Homo sapiens: one gene and its partner. The protein of the gene in region 1 interacts with the protein of each later gene in a pairwise test. Each region holds a gene or a part of one and is shown on either strand. Other genes may lie near its edges. The genes, in order: MAP2K2 and KSR1.

What was found.
Region 2: the proteins of MAP2K2 (region 1) and KSR1 interact in binary tests that used the Homo sapiens proteins (3 or more experiments, as listed by UniProt).

Annotation. Positions count from the first base shown.
Region 1 is NC_000019.10:4,119,817-4,130,131, reverse strand, and holds the start of MAP2K2 (dual specificity mitogen-activated protein kinase kinase 2), read left to right. Parts: upstream 1-6,009; 5' UTR 6,010-6,256; coding exon 6,257-6,348; intron 6,349-10,315. UniProt on the Homo sapiens protein: Catalyzes the concomitant phosphorylation of a threonine and a tyrosine residue in a Thr-Glu-Tyr sequence located in MAP kinases. Activates the ERK1 and ERK2 MAP kinases.
Region 2 is NC_000017.11:27,605,666-27,615,095, forward strand, and holds part of KSR1 (kinase suppressor of Ras 1), read left to right. Parts: coding exon 1-148; intron 149-2,248; coding exon 2,249-2,345; intron 2,346-3,530; coding exon 3,531-3,664; intron 3,665-4,401; coding exon 4,402-4,533; intron 4,534-5,184; exon of another isoform or gene 5,185-5,712; intron 5,713-5,828; coding exon 5,829-5,964; intron 5,965-9,430.

The DNA of each region.
Region 1 (10,315 bases):
AATTAGCTGGGCATGGTGGTGTGCACCTGTCATCCCGGCTACTCAGGAGGCTGAGGCAGGAGGATCACCTGATCCCGGGAGGTAGAGGCTGCAGTGAGCAGTGATTACACCACTGCACTCCAGCCTGGGTAACAGAGTGAGATCGTCTCCAAAAAAAAGAAGGAGAATTTATATATTTATTTATTTACTTACTTACTTATTGAGACAGACCGTCTTGCTCAATCACCCAGGCTGGAGTGCAGTGGCGCGATCTCGGCTCACTGCAAGCTCCGCCTCCTGGGTTCACGGCATTCTCCTGCCTCAGCCTCCCAAGTAGCTGGGACTACAGGCGCCTGCCCCCACGCCCTGCTAATTTTTTTTGTATTTTTAGTAGAGACGGGGTTTCACCATGTTAGTCAGGATGGTCTTGATCTCCTGACCTCGTGATCCACCCGCCTCGGCTTCCCAAAGTGCTGGGATTAGAGGCGTGAGCCACCGCGCCCGGCCAGAAGGATGATTCATTTACTGTTCTATGTCAAGGGCAATGCCCACAGTACATACAATGGGATATCATCTAGCAAGGAAACCGAACTAATTATCGTTATGTGAAATAATATAAATGAATCTCAAAAATATTGTCTCAGGACCTGGTACAGTGACTGACGCCTGTAATCCCAGCACTTTGGGAGGCCAAGTCACTGGGGTCATTTGAGCCTAGGAGTTTGAGACCAGCATGGGCAACATGATGAGACCCCCCCATCTCCACAAAAAATATAAAATTAGTTGGGCATGGCGGTGGGAGCCTGTAGTCCCAGCTACTCCGGAGGCTGAGGTGGGAGGATGGCTTGAGCCCAGAAAGTGGAGGCTGTAGTGAGCTGAGATCACACCACTACACTCCAGCCTGTGCAATAAAGGAAAATCCTGTCTAAAACAAAACCAAAACCAAAAACAAAACATTGTCCTAAAGCAGAAAGAGCTGACACCAGGCCGGGTGCGGTGGCTCACGCCTGTAATCCCAGCCTATAATTCCAGCACTCTGGGAGGCCGAGGCAGGTGGATCACGAGATCAGGAGTTCAAGACCAGCCTGGCCAATATGGTGAAACCCCATCTCTACTAAAAATACAAAAATTAGCTGGGTGTGGTAGCACACGCCTATAATCCCAGCTACTCCGGAGGCTGAGGCACGGGAATCGCTTGAACCTCGGAGGTGGAAGTTGCAGTGAGCCGAGATCGTGCCACTGCACTCCAGCCTGGGTGACAGAGTGAGACTCTGTCTCAAAAAAAAAAAAAAAAAAAAAGAACTGACACCATGAGTGCAATTCCATTTACATGAAACTCTTGAACAGGCAAAAACTAATCTATGGGGATAGAACGCAGAATCTGGGGGGGTTTTGGGAGTAGTAGTGGACTGCAGCTGGCTTACAGCCACTCGTAAGCATCTTTGATACCATTGTCAACTTTATTTTTTTTGAGACTGACTTTCACTCTCGTTGCCCAGGCTGGAGTACAGTGGCACCATCTCGGCTCACCACAACCTCCACCTCCTGGGTTCAAGCGATTCTCCTGCCTCAGCCTCCCTCGTAGCTGGGATTACAGGCATGTGCCACCACACCTGGCTAGTTTTGTATTTTTATTTTTATTTATTTATTTTTTTAGACAGAGTCTTGCTCTCTTGCCCAGGCTGGAGTGCAGTGGCGAAATCTCAGCTCACTGCAAGCTCCACCTCCCGGGTTCACACCATTCTCCTGCCTCAGCCTCCTGAGTAGCTGGAACTACAGGTGCCCGCCACCACGCCTGGCTAATTTTTTTGTATTTTTAGTAGAGACAGGGTTTCACTGTGTTAGCCAGGATGGTCTCTGGTCTCGATCTCCTGACCTCGTGATCTGCCTGCCTCAGCCTCCCAAAGTGCTGGGATTACAGGCGTGAGCCACCGCGCCCGGCCTTGTATTTTTAGTAGAGACAGGGTTTGTCCATGTTGGTCAGGCTGGTATCGAACTCCCGACCTCAGGTGATCCACCCGCCTCGGCCTCCCAAAGTGCAGGGATTATAGGCATGAGCCACCACATCTGGTCTTCTTCTTTTTTTTTTTTTTTTTGAGACAGAGTCTCCCTCAGGCTGGAGTGCGGTGGCACGATCTTGGCTCACTGCAACCTCCACCTCTCAGGTTCAAGTAATTCTCGTGCCTCAGCCTCCCAAGTAGCTGAGACTACAGGCACCTGCCACCATGCCCAGCTAATTTTTTTTTTTTTTCCGAGATGGAGCCTTACTCTGTTGCCCAGGCTGGAGTGCAGGGGCACAATCTTGGCTCACTGCAACCTCCACCTCCGGGGTTCAAGCAGTTCTCCTGCCTCAGCCTCCCGAGTAGCTGGGATTACAGGTGCCCACCACCATGCCCGGCTAATTTTTGTGTGTTTTTAGTAGAGACGGGGTTTCACCATGTTGGTCAGGCTGGTCTTGAACTCTTGACCTCAGGTGATCTGCCCACCTCGGCTTGCCAAAGTGCTGTGATTACACCCGTGACCAGCCTAATTTTTGTATATTTAGTAGAGATGGGGTTTCACCATGTTGGCCAGGCTGGACTCGAACTCCTGACCTCAAGTGATCACCTGCTTTGGCCTCCCAAAGTGCTGGGATTGCAGGTGTGAGCCACCACACCCGGCCTCTCCTTATTTTAATGGCTCATTGTTAAACATTTACCAGCTCACTACTGCTGGGTGCAGAGGAAGAGAATGAACTAAAAAGGCAGTGAACAGACTTTCTGGAGTAAGGGGAAGTGTTACATGGATGTATAGAGTTGTAATAATCCAAGAAATTGAACTTCAGAAACTTGTGCATTAATAGGTGAGTGCAGTGGCTCACGGCTCTAGTCCCAGCACTGCTGAGGACGAGGCAGGAGGATCGCTTGAGCCTAGGAGTGTGAGACCAGCCTGAGTGACATGGAGAAACCCTGTCTGGACAAAAAATACAAAAATTAGCCGAGTGTGGTGGCGTATGTTTGTAGCCAGGGCTACTAGGGAGGCTGAGGTGGGAGAATCGCTTGAGCCAGGGAGGTGGAGGCTGCAGAGAGTTATGATCGTGCCACTGCACTCCAGCCTGAGGCCTGGGTGACAGAGTCAGAACTTGTCTTAAAAAGAAAAAAAAAGCCTAAAATAGGATAAAATGGGAGAAAGATTGCTAGGCAAAACAGAAGGAACATGGAAATAGCCCTGTCTCTGAAAGGGCCTGTCCTTATTTGAGGCCACATATGCATCCATCTGAATTTTGGACAAGCGGGTGGGAGCGATGAGAAGTAAAACTGAAAGGCCCAGATTGTAAAAACCCAGGAGCAGGCTTCCCCAGGAGCAGTGTTTTGTTTGTTGTTTTGTTTTGTTTTGTTTTTTTCGAGATGGAGTCTCGGTCGGTCGCCCAGGCTGGAGTGCAATGGCGTGATCTCGGCTCACTGCAACCTCCACCTCCCGGGTTTAAGCGATTCTCCTGCCTCAGCCTCCCGAGTAGCTGGGACTACAGGCACGCATCACCACACCCAGTTAATTTTTGTATTTTTAGTAGAGACGGGGTTTCACCATGTTGGCCAGGATAGTCTCAATCTCTTGACCTCATGATCCACCTGCCTTGGCTTCCCAAAGTGCTGGGATTACAGGCGTGAGCCACCGCGCCCGGCCAGTTGGTTGGTTTTGTTTTTTGAGCGTGAGTCTGGCTCTGTCGCCCAGGCTGGAATGCGATGGCACAATCTCGGCTCACTGCAACCTCCGCCTCCGGGGTTCAGTTATCCCACCTCAGCCTCCCTAGTAGCTGGAATTACAGCCACCCGCCACCACACCTGTGTAATTTTTGTATTTTTAGTAGAGACGAGGTTTCACCATGTTGGCCAGGTTGGTCTCGAACTCCTGACCTCAAGTGATCAGCCCACCTCAGCTTCCCAGGGTCCTGGGATTACAGGTGTGAGCCACGGCACCTGGCAAAAAATTAAATTTTTTTTTGTTCTGTTTTATTGGAGACGGAGTCTTACTTTGTCGCCCAGGCTGGAGGGCAGTGGTGCAATCTTGGCTCACTGCAACGTCTGCCCCCCGGGTTCAAGCGATTCTCCTGCCTCAGCCGCCTGAGTAGCTGAGACTATAGGCACACACCGCCAGGCCTGGCTAATTTTTGTATTTTATTTATTTATTTGTTTGTTTGTTTGTTTGTTTGATTTTTTTGAGACGAAGTCTCGCTCTTGTCTCCCAAGCTGGAGTGCAATGGCGTGATCTTGGCTCACTGCAACCTCTGCCTCCCGGGTTCAAGCAATTCTTCTGCCTCAACCTCGCGAGTAGCTGGGATTACAGGCACGCGCCACCATGCCCGGCTAATTTTTGTATTTTTTTGTTTTAGTAGAGACGGGGTTTCACCATGTTGGCCAGACTCGTCTTCAACTCCTGACCTCAGGTGATCCACCCGCCTCGACCTCCCAAAGTGCTGGGATTACAGGCGTGAGCCACCGCGCCCAGCCTATGACCTTTCTTATAAAGTGGTACGGCTATTGTATTAAATAGTAAGGTGGTGCTTCAAAAAGTTCAACATAGAATTACCATATAATCCAGTAATTCCTCTTCAGAACATATACCCAAAAGAACTCAAGGCAAGGACTCAAACAGATATTTGTACATCTGTGTTCATAGCGGCACGATTCACCGAAGTGTCTAGTGGCAGATAAATGGATAAGCAAAATATAGTCCATGCACACAATAGAATATTATTCAGCCTTAAAAAGGAGGAAAATCCTGACTGGGTGCGGTGGCTCACGCCTGTAATCCCAGCACTTTGGGAGATCGAGGCGGGTGGATCACGAGGTCAGGAGATGGAGACCATCCTGGCTAACACGGTGAAACCCCGTCTCTACTAAAAATACAAAAAAATTAGCCGGGCATGGTGGTGGGCACCTGTAGTCCCAGCTACTCGGGAGGCTGAGGCAGGAGAATGGCGTGAACCCGGGAGGCAGAGTTTGCAGTGGGCCGAGATCGCACCACTGCACTCCAGCCTGGGTGACAGAGCGAGACTCCGTCTCAAAAAAAAAAAAAGGGAAATTTTTCTTTTTTTTTTTTTTTCTGCTCTTTTTTGGAGCAGGGCTACCCGATTGGAAGTATGCCCGGAGTAGTCAAGTGGGTAAATTCTAACACAGGTTACAACGTGGATCTAACACAGCTACAACAGGCACCTTGAGGACGTGGCCCTCAGTGAAATATGCCAGCCACAAAGGGACAAAACCTGTGTGATCCTACTCATATGAAGTCCCTAGAATCATCAGATTCACAGGAAGTACGACGTTGGGTTCCAGGGGCTGGGGAGGGGGATAGGGAGTGAGGTTTCATAGGGGACAGTGTTTCAGTTTCGGAAGATGAGAAAATTCTGGAGATGGTGGTGGTGGTGGTTGCTTAATGCCGCTGAGCTGTGCATTTAGAAATGGTTAAAATGACAAGTTTTATGTTATGTGTATTTTATAATAAAAATGTTTCAACATGCGCATAGTAATATATGCAATTTTATTTGTCAATTAAAATAAATTTTAAAAATGTTTTAGAGTGGCCTTGTTCTGATGAAGGAGGGGGAGTAACTGACACTCTAAGGCGGTGGGGGCTAGGGGCGTGTGTCCACGCTTGCCAAAAAGATTAAATGGACTCTGGGTGGGTCTCGTCCACTGTTCTGGGGTCTTACGGGTTCTCTCAGCCCCAGCCTGGGGCACCACAGGCTCTCAGGAGTCTGGCTACCCTGCCCACCTGTGCACGACCATCACCCCAGCCTTCATCCCTCCGTCTCCTCCCCTGCTCCCGCGCCTCATGCCCCAAGCGCTTGGGCACACGCGCCGTGGTAAGGCAAGCGAGGGCGCCCGGTCCCGGCACCGCCTCGCGTCGGTCTCCGCCCCTTTCCCCTCCGAAAGGCGGCCTTGTGCTGCTGCGCAGGCGCGGCGGCTGGGGGTGGGGTCCATCGCGGCTCCCGATCCCGTTATCGCGAGAAGCCGGTCCGCGATCTTGTGGCCGCCCCTCCCCTCCCCCTGCCTCTCGGACTCGGGCTGCGGCGTCAGCCTTCTTCGGGCCTCGGCAGCGGTAGCGGCTCGCTCGCCTCAGCCCCAGCGCCCCTCGGCTACCCTCGGCCCAGGCCCGCAGCGCCGCCCGCCCTCGGCCGCCCCGACGCCGGCCTGGGCCGCGGCCGCAGCCCCGGGCTCGCGTAGGCGCCGACCGCTCCCGGCCCGCCCCCTATGGGCCCCGGCTAGAGGCGCCGCCGCCGCCGGCCCGCGGAGCCCCGATGCTGGCCCGGAGGAAGCCGGTGCTGCCGGCGCTCACCATCAACCCTACCATCGCCGAGGGCCCATCCCCTACCAGCGAGGGCGCCTCCGAGTGAGTGGGCAGGGGTCAGCCGGAGGCTTGGGGTGCACGGGGCAGGGAGCCCTCGGGGAAGGACGGGGCGAGGGGACGGGGGTTCGCGAGGAGTGCACGAGGCAGGGGGGTCACGGGGGAGGACGGGGTGAGTGGTGCACGGGGCAGGGGGTTCTCGAGGGGAGGACAGGGCAGGGGACCCTCGGGGGAGGACGGGGCAGGGGGCCCTCGGGGGAGGACGGGGCAGGGGGCCCTCGGAGGACGGGGCGAAGGGTGCACGGGGCAGGGGGGTCTTTGAGCAGTGAGATTGGGCGAGGGGAGGTCCTTGTGGTGGAAAAGATGGGGTGTGGGGTTCCTGAAGAGTGGAATTGGGATAACGGGAGTCTCTGAGTAGTGAAGTTGGGGTGAAGGATGTCTCTAAGAGGAGAGGATGGGGACAGGGGTCCCTGAGCAGCGAGGTTGAGTGAGGGGAGGTCCCTGCAGTGCAGAAGATGGGGTGTGGGGCTTCTGAAAAGTGAAGCTGGGGTGAGGGGAGTCCCTCAGTAGGAAAATCGGAATGAGGGGTGTCCCCAAGGAGAGAACAGGATGAGGCTCCCCAAGCAGTGAGATCGGGGTGAGGGGTATCTCTAAGAGGAGAGAACACAGTGTGGGGTCCTTGAGTAGTGAAATGAGGGTGAAGAGTTCCTAAGAGGAAAGGACGGAGTAAAGGTTGCCGTAGTCATGAGATGAGGGTGAGGGGAGACCCTGAGTAGGGAAATCGGGGTGCAGGGCATTCCTGAGAGGAGAGGATGGGGTGTGGGGAGGTCAGGCAGCCCCTGAGGAGGAAATCTGGGCAAGGGGGCTCCAGAGGGGAGAGGATGGGGTGAGGGGTCCCTGAGTAATGAGACTGAGATGGGGTAGGGTCCCTGGTAGGAAAAGACGGGGTAAGGGTCCCTCAATAATGAGATAGGGCCAAGGGAGGTCCCTGTGGGAAAAGACAGGGCATGGAGTCACTGAGTAGCAGAATGGTGGTAGGTCTCTGAGTAGTGAAATGGGGTGAACGGTCCCTGAATAGTGAAATCGGGGAGATGGTGGGGTCCCTGAGTAATGAGATTGGAGTGAGGGGAGATCCCTTTGGGGAAAAGATGGGGTTTGGAATCCCTAAGTCGTGAGATCAGGCCAAGGAGATGTCCTTGCAGAGAGAAGATGGGGTGCAGGGCCCCTGAATTGTGAGATGGGGTTGAGGGGGTCCCTGGGAGGAGAGGATGTGTCGGTGGGGGCCTGTGGGGGAAGGATAGGCAAGGGGTGTTCTGCATATTGAAATGATAGTGAAGCGAGTCCCTTGGGGGAGAGATGGGGTGAGGGGGTCCCTATGGGGGAAAGATGGGGTGGGAGGGTTCCTATGGGGGAGAGATGGGGTGAGGGGGTCCCTATGGGGGAGAGATGGGGTGGGAGGGTCCCTATGGGGGAGAGATGGGGTGAGGGGGTCCCTATGGGGGAGAGATGGGGTGAGGGGGTCCCTGTGGGGGAGAGATGGGGTGGGAGGGTCCCTATGGGGGAGAGATGGGGTGGGAGGGTCCCTATGGGGGAGAGATGGGGTGGGAGGGTCCCTATGGGGGAGAGATGGGGTGGGAGGGTTCCTATGGGGGAGAGATGGGGTGGGAGGGTGCCTGAGCCACAGGTTGAGAGTGCAGCACCTGGGTGGGGAGGACAGGCTGAGAGGTCTTGGGGGGGCGGGGAGCGGTCCTTTTGGGGAATGAGTCCCTGAGTAATGAGGTTGGCATGGGATGAAGAGGGCACCTAGGGTGCCAAGGTGGGGCAGGGGGGTCCCTTAGGGGAGAGGATGGGGTGAGGAGGTCCATAGACAACCAGGGAAAAGGGAAGAGAGGGGAGGACAGGGGGCTCCCAGAAGGGTCAGGATGTGGGAGAGGGGTGTCCTAGGGGGTCACGATGGGGTGGGAGACCCTAGAAAGGTCAGGATCGGGGGACTTTGGGGGGGTCAGGGTGGGAGTTCTGGGGTATCTGAGGACAAGGGGGTGTCTTAGGGGTGTCAGGACATGGGGGGGCTTTAGCGGGGTCAGGATGGGAGTTCTAGCGGGTTCCAGATGGAGGGGTTTCTGCTGGGGGAGGTCTAGTGGGATCAGGACAGGGGTTCCAGGGGGTTCATGTTGTGGGGGGGGTCAGGTTGGGTCCTCGGGGGTCATGTTGGGGGATTCTGGGGGGGTCAGGTTAGGGGGTCCTCGGGGGGTCATGTTGTGGGGGTTCTGGGAGGGCAGAGCAGGGGGTCCTAGGGGTCTCATGTTGGGGTTCTGAGGGGGTCAGGATGGGGTCCCAGGGAGGTCAAGATGTCAAGATGGGCATCTCTGAGAGGGCATCTCCTGCTTGTGGCGGTGCCCAGTGTGTGGAGTCCCTGAAGCTGGAAGTGTGAGGAGACAGGGAAGCCAGAGTGTGAGGAACGAGGAGGCGTGGGGATCAGGGGACCCTGCTGGCCCCTGAAAGCAGAGGTGCAGATTCTGAAGTGAGTGGACCGGAAAACCCTTGTGAGGGGCTGACCCAGTGCAGAAGCTTTGAGGAGGTGGAGGGCGACCAGAGGCCTGGGTGAAGGGATCTGAGAAAGGGGTATGCTGGGGTCCGGGTGGCGTGCTGGCAGAATCGCACTGCTCCAGGACGAGGGAGGGGACTGGGTGTTGGGGGCACACACTGGTGGGGTCATGCCAGGGTGATCTCTGCACTCCCGTTCTGCAGGCCGAGGCAGGGCAGGGCGATCCCCGGGGCCCTTGGCTGGGGTCCGGGTGCCGTGCCTGCGGTGTGACCCCTCAAGAACCAGGTGTCAGGGACTGTGGCATGTCTGGTGGCCTCTCCCGCTTGGGGGTCGGCCTTCTGTGACCCAGATGAAGACTCTTGATGCCAATGTGTGCAAGTCAACACGGGCACAGCCAGACACGGGGACCCGTTCCTCATTCTCTGCACAGAACTCGCCCTTCACATTTCTCTTCCGTGTGGGGTTTGATTCCCATCTCTTGAAGGATTCCCCCAGGAGAGGAAGCTGGCTGTAGGGACGCCAAGGTTTTGTTTTGTTTTGTTTAATAACCACAGTTGGGTTGCCAGTAAATTTAAGATGGATTAGTCAGCTGACTCCAGAATGCATTTTCAATGTTTTGAGCAGTACTTGAGACCTTCCAAGTCTGCCATCAGAAGTGTTCATTCATGGCTGGGTGTGGTGGCTCACGCCTGTAATCCCAGCCCTTTGGGAGGCCAAGGTGGGTGGATTACTTGAGGCCCAGAGTTCAAGACCAACCTGGCCAACATGGCAAAACCCCGTCTCTATTAAAAATGCCAAAAAAATTAGCTGAGCGCGGTGATGCACACCTGTAATCCCAGCTACTCAGGAGGCTGAGGCAGGAGAATCGCTTGGACCCAGGAGGCAGAGGTTGCAGTGAGCTGAGATCGTGCCAGTGCACTCCAGCCTGGGCGACAGAGCAAGACTGTCTCAAAAAAAATAAATATTCATTTATTCATTGATGTTATTCATTCATTCATTCATGTTCCCCTCCTTACCTTCTGTCCCACTCCCAGGGTCTCGCCATTTCTGCTTCTTCTGGGTCCTTGTTCAGCAGCTCCTCAGTGAGCACCTACTAGGGCCCTGTTTCCCCTCATGGGGGACACTAAGATGAGCAGGGGTTGTCCTGACCTCAGGCAGGTGTTGTTACCTCGGGCAGGTTCCCCCACCCCTGTGAGTCTGTTCCCTCCTGCCTGGGCCTCCGGGGACGATGGTGAGAATGGAATGAGATGGTGTTTGTCCAGCCCAGGAAGCGGTGCCCAGGCCCCTGCCTTCCAGCGAGCTCTTTGCAGCACCAGCTCCAGCGCCATCGCCTCGGTTCTGGCCTGTGTGCCCCGTGGCTTACGCCACTTCCAGCTGTAGGCGAACAGTGGTCGAACTTTGGGATTGGAAATTTCCAGATGGAAGGAGCAGTCCACGCCTTCATTCCCTGCTTCAGTCCCCTCTCTG
Region 2 (9,430 bases), on another chromosome or scaffold:
TTCGCCTGCTGGAGATGGACGGCCACAACCAGGACCACCTGAAGCTCTTCAAGAAAGAGGTGATGAACTACCGGCAGACGCGGCATGAGAACGTGGTGCTCTTCATGGGGGCCTGCATGAACCCGCCCCACCTGGCCATTATCACCAGGTAACCAAGCCCTAGGACCTCATGCTGGATGGCCAGCTCAGCCTCCCCCTTCCCAGGGAGCCCTGTTTGTGTGGATGCCCTAGAGGGTGTGGAAGTTCTAATAGAGGCATAAAGAAGAAAACCAAAAATGGGGTATAACTTCCTAATCACATAACCGCATTGACACTAAAAAATAAATAAATATGGGCTGGTGCAGTGGCCCATGTCTGTAATCCCAACACTTTGGGAGGCCAAGGTGGAAGGATTGCTTGAGCCCAGGAGCTTGAGACCAGCCTGGGCAACATACTGAGACGCTGTCTCTACAAAAAAATTAGCTGGGCCTGGTGGCAGGTGCCTGTGCCTGTGGTCTCAGCTACTTGGGAGGCTGAGGCAGGAGGATCGCTTGAGCCCAGGAGGTCAAGGCTGCAGCGAGCCAAGATCATGCCACTGCACTCCAGCCTGGGTGACAGAGTGAGACCTTTCTAAGTTTACAGAAGATCAAATGTCCATAAAAGGTACAGAGTGAAAGCCAGTCTTCTCCCACTGCAACTGAGCGCTTCTCCCCAAAGTCAGAGACACTATAAACAGTTAACATTCCTTCTGTTAAAAGGAAGACATTTGCATATACTCACGTTTTTAAACTGTTTATTCCTTTTTGTAAAAATACAAAGGAGAGATCATGCTGGCTCACACCTTGCCTCCTGCACCCGATTGTGGGTCTGAGGTCTACTCTCTTCTAACACCTGCACAGTATCCCCATCACGTAGGCTGAACCCAGTGGTGTGCTGGTAAATGTGTAACAACCAGTTTTGGGGCAGTATGGAGGGAAGCCCTAATTTATAACATCCATCACTTCCTGTGGTGTAAATACTCTCACCATGGTCAATTTCAGACTACCAATGTTATCTCCTGGAGTGGAGTAGAGTTGGGAAGAGTTGTATAATCAAGAGCTGATCACTGGTGGTCCCGTAATTTATTTACAGAACAAGACTCCATCTCAAAAAAAAAAAAAAAGTAGTTAATGAAAAACAAAACAGGTAATTAATTAATGATAAACTAGACAGGGTCTCGCTCTGTCACCCAGGCTGGAGTGCAGTGGCGTGTTCTTGGCTCACTGCAACCTCTGCCTCCCAGGCTCAAGCAATTTTCGTGCCTCAGCCTCCCAAGTAGCTGGGATTACAGCCGTGTGCCACCACGCCTCGCTAATTTTTATATTTTCAGTAAAGATGAGGTTTCACCGTGTTGGCCAGGCTGGTCTCAAACTCTTGACCTGAGGTGATCCGCCCACCTCAGCCTCCCAAAGTGCTGAGATTACAGGCGTGAGCCACTGTGGCCTGCCTGAAACAGGAAAATATTCATTAACAAAAAAATCTTACTTTGTTTAGAATACGCTGAAGAAAAGTGGGACACAGATAAGGAAATCACCAACCAATATTCTCTACCCCTTGCCTGGTTTTCAAAGGCTCTGAGACTCCAAGAATATTTTCCTAAAAACATAGTCCCTTCCTAAGATAGCTCCCTTGGACCCACATTCTCTCTGGGTCCCTCCTCACCCGGGGTTTTAGGAGTTGATGCAGGTGGCGACCCCAGAACTGAAGCTCCTTTTCCAGTAGTCACCTTGACGCCCCTAACATCTACCCCACCCCCTTTCCCTCCTTGCACACTCCTTTATTGTAATAAAAACCCTGTGATCAAGAAAAAATGAAAACTATAATGAGATTCTTGACAGTGAGCCCCAGAGCCTTGATGTTGCCTGTTGATGCCCTTAAATTAGCCAAGTTCTTCCCCATCAGAGTGGTCCTGCCTTGAACCCACCAAGCATGGCTACTCTGAGTTCCTGAGAGCTTTGATGCACTGTTTCCTGTTGTAGGATGGGCAGGCACTGGCTCTCAGGGAATGGGGGTTTGTGTGCGTGTACGTGTGTGGTGTCATGTGTTTCTGCACGTTCAGGCCAGGCCCCAGCAGGACTGGGCTGGGTTAAAGAAGATTTGGCTCACAGTCGAGGGGCTGGAGAGAGTCCTTGCAGGCAGACGGGCACAGTTCTCCCCATGGGCTCCACCAGGGTTGGGGTCAGGCCGCACCAGCCCCAGACTTGTGCTTGACCCCCACCACCCTCGACAGCTTCTGCAAGGGGCGGACGTTGCACTCGTTTGTGAGGGACCCCAAGACGTCTCTGGACATCAACAAGACGAGGCAAATCGCTCAGGAGATCATCAAGGTGAGGGGGTGCCCAGCTGCTGGGGGTGGGTTTCTGGCCGGTTCCAGGGCTCTCGGCTGTTCCTCTCGCCCTGTTACTCCCTGTTAGGGTGGTTTGGGCAGCTTTGCCTCTCCTTCTAGCTCAGGCTCCTCAAGGGTGGGACCCCATCTCTTCCTCCCTGTCTCTGTCTCATTCATTCAGAGCTGGGAGCTGATTGTCCACATGATTAGGCTTGATGGAATTGACTTGGTTGGGAAGGAACTTGGCAGGCTTTAGAGGCCAGTTTCAATCCTGGTCACACCCTTTGTGTGACCTTGGGTAGGTTTAGCCTCTCTAAGCCTCAGTTTTCTCCCCTGTAAAATGGGGATCTTCATATATCCTCCCTCTCTGGATTGGTGTGAGGTTAAAAACGCGATAATCCATGCTGTGGGGTACACAGGAGCCCTGGGTCTGGTGTTTGAAGACAGCTTGACCTTGGATGAGATCATGCCTATGTCAGGTCACCCACGCTCCATGCACCTGACTCATCAGTGTTAGTTCAAATAGAGCATTGGTTAGAAATCACCCACTGCCACCTCTTCGCTTGATAGGTGAGGAAACCAGTCTTCAGAGAAGTTGAGCACTGTGTCCAAGGCCACAGAGTGAGTGAGAATCTGAGCTGAGATGGAGTTCAAACCCCAGATTTCTTAGTCCAGGGCTCCTTCTACTACAGCTCAGACATTAGGAGCACTCAAAGTTGGGGACCCCGCTGTGGGAATGCCTCTCTGTTCCCCCACCTTGAGCCCTTGTCCTGCCTGAGAGCACAGACCAGCTGTGCATATCCTGACAGAAAACCCCAGCTCATTTAGGCCCTTTATGACTGTACACTGATAAATCTCACTGTCCCTGACCCCCCGGCTCCCTGCCCATCACCCTGTTCACACCTCCTACCTTAGCCAAGGTTAACATGGTTGTTTAGAAGCATGGTAACATTAAAAGAGCATAGACCGGTCTGGGATCAGATCTCAGCTCTGCTTCTTCACTGCTGTGTGGCTTGGAGCAAGTGACTTTCCCTCTCTGAACCTCGATTTCTTCTTCTGTAAAATGGGGACAATATACTGCATGGAATTGTGAAGATCAAATATGGGGATTTAGGTAAATCATCCAGCCCAGGGTGGCACCTCCGTCATCGTTGCACATCTTCACTCCTCCTGATGTGTCCTCCAGGGCATGGGATATCTTCATGCCAAGGGCATCGTACACAAAGATCTCAAATCTAAGAACGTCTTCTATGACAACGGCAAGGTGGTCATCACAGACTTCGGGCTGTTTGGGATCTCAGGCGTGGTCCGAGAGGGACGGTGAGTTGGTCTTGAGTGTCTGGGTGGGTTGTGGGTGCTGGATGGGGAAGAGCAGGGCTGAGGTCTGGGCACTTTCACTGTTTGTTGCTGAGCTGCAGCCCTCCCTGCAGGGAAGCCCAGGTCGCTTTGGTCCTGCCCTCGTAGTTCTGGTTCAGAATCAGATTTGGGTCGCGTTTGGATTCTCAGGCCGACTTCCACGGAAACCAGGTCCCCACACTCACATTTGCCCTGGCTGTTCACCCGCTTGGCCAAGGAACCAGGTCATTTCCCCACGATGAGGAAGAGTGTCAAATTTTATTTCCCCAAATCTTGAAGGGATTGGCATAGGGAGAAAGGCCCCTCCCCTCACATCTAGGGGAACCCAAAAGGGAGCATGGCAGCAAGGCTGCAAGGCCAGCCCCAGCCAAGTTTGAGATCCACAGGCAGATCAGGGTTCCTGGTTAGAGAGGCGCCTCATTCTCCAGCAGAGGGAGCTGGGCACCTTCACCAGCAGCTCCCTGTCAATATTTATCCATTCTTGCCCTGCTTTTCTAGAAACAACCGGTCATGACTCCTTTGTAGAATTCCTCAAAAGCACCGGTGCCTTTCCCAAGTGCAGGGTCAGTGTTCTGGGTCTGGGTGTGTTTTCTAAGCTGTGTGTGGGTGTTCTGCCGGCCCTGGGGCAGACCTGTGCCAGGCAGGCCTCTTTGCTGCCTGCTGAAAGGCCTGTGTCCTTGTCCCGGCTTCCTGGTCTCCAGGCGTGAGAACCAGCTAAAGCTGTCCCACGACTGGCTGTGCTATCTGGCCCCTGAGATTGTACGCGAGATGACCCCCGGGAAGGACGAGGATCAGCTGCCATTCTCCAAAGCTGCTGATGTCTATGCATTTGGGTGAGTAGGCCCCTGGTGCCCTGAGGCCAAGTGTGGCCAAAACAGAGGGCCCTGGTGGCCATTGGGGGCAGAGGGAGGCATGCTTTTAGGTGTTGAAAACCCAGGCTCTGGAGTAAAAAATCAACCTTGAGTCCTGGCTCTGCCGCTTGTTGAGTGCATGGTCTTGAGTCCTGGCTCTGCCGCTTGTTGAGTGCATGACTATATCCTTGACCTGGAATAGCTCCTCCCAACAAGGTCATTTCATGAGGACTAAATCAGGTAATTGTGTGCAGTGCTTAACACTGGCTGTCAGCCCCACCCAGCTGATCTGGGAGGATGCTCACCAGAGCTGACCAAGAACTGCTCCTCCCAGTCTGGGGGAGCTGGATATCCTGCCGGCTCTGCTACCCCACAAAGACCTGGGTGCTGACCAGTAGCAATATAATGTGAGCCCGATATAGAAGTTAAAGTTTTCTAATAGCCACATTAAAAAAGAAATGGATGAAATTAGTTTCCCCTGTTTATGTTTTATATATTATAAAACGATATATTTTATTTAACTCAATATATCCAAAATATTATTTCAACATGTAATCAATATACAAATTAATAAGATATTTTATATTCTTTTTTCCTACTAAGTCTTTAAAATCTGGTGTGTTTTCTGCCTAGAGCACCCCTCCATTCAACTGTGCACATTTCAGTCACTCAGTAGCCCCCCTGTGGCAAGAGGCTCCCACATTGGACAGTGTGGGTCTGATGGAGAAAGTCCCATCCCAAGTGAAGAAAGCCAAGGGGACGTAGAGAGGCCAAGGAAGGCTCACCACCCCGGTCACCTGTGCTGTATCTGGGTATCCTTCCCAGTGGGGTGGCCTTGGCGCCATCCTTCCTCCCTGACCTTTAACTGTATCCTTTCCTGAGCACCCATGTGTGCCAGGTGCTGGGCTTGGCAATTTAGTACTCCTCAAACAACCCTGTGACAAGAGACATTAGCCCCACTGAGGTGAAGCAGTTTTACTGGGATCTTGCAGCTAGAAGGTGGCAGAGCTGGATTTGTGCTGAGGTCAGAATGACCACCAAGGCTCCGGTCAAACCTGCGCTGTCTCAGACTTCCCACCCAACGAGAGCACAGGGCCCAGGTCCTCTAGGGCTGGGAGGAGCCTCCAGGAGCCCACTGTAGCATCCCCTGAAGCCAAGTGGGTGAGGAAGGCTGGAGAAGGGTCCTGATCCTCTGGCTGGGCTATGGCTCAAGGGCCCCTGGGCTTGAGCTGGGCACAGCGGCCCAGGAGCTCACAGACATGGCTGGGTCTCTGCAGGACTGTTTGGTATGAGCTGCAAGCAAGAGACTGGCCCTTGAAGAACCAGGCTGCAGAGGCATCCATCTGGCAGATTGGAAGCGGGGAAGGAATGAAGCGTGTCCTGACTTCTGTCAGCTTGGGGAAGGAAGTCAGTGTAAGTAGTACCTGCCCTGGGTGGAGCAGTAGGGCTGGAGGTGGGGTGGGGCATGTGGCATGGCTGCCCTTCACTCACCCACCTGAGAAATGGGGTCGGTGAGGAGCTCTGCCACCTGCACGTGTCTAGCTAGAGATGAAAATGATATGCATTGCCCGGGAATGGGGAAGGAACAGGGAGGCATAAATAAGAAAATATCTATCCTCACCCCACTGCTCACCCTTTTCATTCCTTTCAGTCTTTTTTTTTTCTTAAAGATAATGGTTTTCATTGATTTATGAGATGAAAAGAAAGTAAAGCCCCATGTTATTTACATGAAAGAAGATAATTTTTTTTAAAAAAATCACTGCTGAAAATACAAATAGTTGTGCTATGCTGTGGTATTAAATCTTTCCTCATAATGTTTTTCTTGACTATTAAGAACAAATCAAAGTTTCCACAGCAAACTTGTTTTCAAAAAACCAAGTCTTAATTATAGTGGCCGACTTCTCATTTCTACATGGTTTCTCCTTAATGGATTCTCTGTGTTTGTAAGTTTTGTCAGGCTAAATAAGAGAGAGAGGCTCTCAAAAGATGTTTATTTGGAAATAGAGCGTTGCACTGGGAATATGCATGCCATGGTGAATGGCTTGCTTATTCAGGGAGGTAAAGGAAAAAATGAAGAGGATTACACAATTATTTTGACATATTTAGTAGTTTTCCCTGGCTACAGAGATGAGTAACAAGAGTGATGTCAGTCCAAGGTTAGACAGGTTGTTTGAGGCAGATGTCCTTGTAGGAGTATTTTTGTATAAGGTTGCCATGGCCTTCGTACAAGGTTGCAGTTTTTGCAGTCTTTAGTGGTAGTTTTTGTTATCAGACATACAAGCCCAAGAAGCCTCTCTTCATGGCTTTCCCAGGCCCGATTTGTCAGAGTTTTCTTCACATTTGTGACTCTCTTTTGATTCTGACAGCTTTCAGTTTCCTTTATCACAGCACAGTGATATATAAAGAAACTCCAGGGCTTGGTGTTTTCAGTGCCATCAGTGATAGCCATGTGTCCATGAATCAGATAGGATTGGGACAGAACAGCCTTGATGTTAATAAGCAACTCCAGTCAGTATTTGGGCAGCATAACAATTGAAGTCTTCAGAGGGACCACCCAGCACTTGTCCAGGCTAAGATACAAACAGGCTGTGAGCTTCTTGTTAAGGTCATGAACATTGCTGGCAGGATCACTGTCTGTCTGCAGACTCTGTCTGCAAATTTGCAGTGATGAATTCAACCTCATCGTCCTCCAAGTTCTTAATAGATGGTAATATTTTTCTCAATTGACTGGTGGCAAGCAGCTAGGGCGTCTTCAGAAGGCTCACTCAAGATGACATTATATCTGATCTACTTTATTCCACAGTAGTATATGTCATCTTGTTGAAGTGCAAAATATTTGTACGGGGATGCCCCTCCAAAGATGACACCAAAATGCTATTTAACAACACGAACAGCAGGCTCCTCTTTGGCCAGTTGATACCATTTCATCTGGGGTGCTGGGCAAGGGCCATGGGTGATGAGCACTTCTCTGACACTCTGAGGCCCGTCCTTCTTGGCCTCCTTCTGGGCCAGGGCCAGTTAAACACCACCTTCACCTTGGTGCATCCTCGGGTGCCTTAGGAGCGTGTGGTGGTGATGCAGAATTTTTTGCTCCTTAGCTCAGCTAAAATCCAGGTTCTTGTCTCATGACCAGGAAAAATTAGGCATGCGGACACATTGAAAGGTGAGGAGAGTGGAATTCATTAAAAGAAACCTCTCAGCAAAAAAGAGGGGGTCCTCCCAACAGGCTCCCATCTCACAGATTGAATATCAGGCCACCACACACGAGCTGAAGAGGCCAGGCTCCTCCCCTGCATAAGGCGCGAATTCCTGGTGGCTCCACCCTATTCCCCCAGTGCATGTGGGTCTCCAGTCCATTGTGGGTGTACCCAGGCAAGACCCTGTGCAGGTTCCCTCATCTGCACAAAAACATCTGTTGTAAACACTTGTGGGGCAGGATGGAGGTTCTCCAGGGACCCTTCTTTATCTGCCTCCTGCAACTGTCAGTGGGCTCAAGATACAGGTTTTGGGCTCCTGGCTGTGGCTGCAGCCTCCTTGGCTGAGCTCTGGGGCAGCTCAGATGGCAGCTGAAGTAACCACTGCTTTCCAGTCTTTTTAAATTTTTTTTGAAGCAGTTTTGCTCTGTCGCCCAGGCTGAAGTGCAGTGGCACGATCTTGGCTCACTGCAACCTCTGCTTCCCAGGTTCAAGTGATCTCCCGCCTCAGCCTCCAAGTAGCTGGGATTACAAGCATGCACCAAAATATCCAGCTAATTTTTGTATTTTTAGTAGAGATGGGGTTTCACCATGTTGGCCAAGCTGGTCTCAAACTCCTGGCCTCAAGGGATCCATCTGCCTCAGCCTCCCAAAGTGCTGGGATTACAGGCATGAGCCCCCATGCCTGGCATAGTCTTTTAAAAAAATATTTAAGACATACATATCATAAAACCTAGCTGATTTTTTTATTGTGACTTTTTCCACATGACATTTTATTATGCTCATTACCTCAAATCATTAACAAATCCTTATTGTTAAGACTGTCTGCCCTTATGTCCTGTGGCCGCACCATAATGTAACTACTTCTGTCACTGGACATGGGGATTCTTTCCAGTTTTAACCTCTCTTTACAAGAGTTAGCAAGGACATCTTTGTATAAACCAGAGTATTATGTATATTTGTTGCATCTGAGAGAAAAGATATTCTTCGTTCTGCCCTCCTGGCAACAGTTTGTTTCCTTTCTGCATACTTAGCATCTTGGAGCAGAGAATGGTAAGTGCCATCTTCAGGGAGGCAAAGGCTGGAGCAGAGCTGAGCAAAGGGCTGCAAGGGAGTCAAGGCTCGGCACTGGCTGCAAGTTGGAATCATCTGGGAGCTTTATAAAAATGCCAGGGTTAAGGCCTCCCCCACAGAGGTACCAATTAAATTGGCCTGGGATGGGAATAAGATCATAGTTTTTTTATTTTTTATTTTTAAATAAAGCTCCTCAGATCATTCTAGAGCACAGCCAGAGTTCTGAACTAATTGGAAGGATTTCTTTTAGTGCGGGGTGATGGTTGTTTTGAGACCAGTGTGGGATCAGGGCGTGGGGAGTGGGGAGAGAGCAGATGCTCCGGCAGCAGCTTGTGGCTCACAGGAGTTCCCTTTCTTTTGTCCAGTCTTGCCTTCCCTTTTTAACACATTGCTATTAGGGGTAGGGGAACATTGGTCAACGCAATAAAATTATTTTCTGTCATAGACAAAAGCTGGGAGTGCCCTCTGAGTGATGCCTTTCTCTGTCTCTCCAGCCACACTGCTGTATAGTTCACCACCAGGCACTGCTTTATGTGCTGAGGCAGCCAGTGAGTTATTAATCATTGTATTTAAGGGTCCATGCATATGGGAAGACATCAAAAGACCAGAGG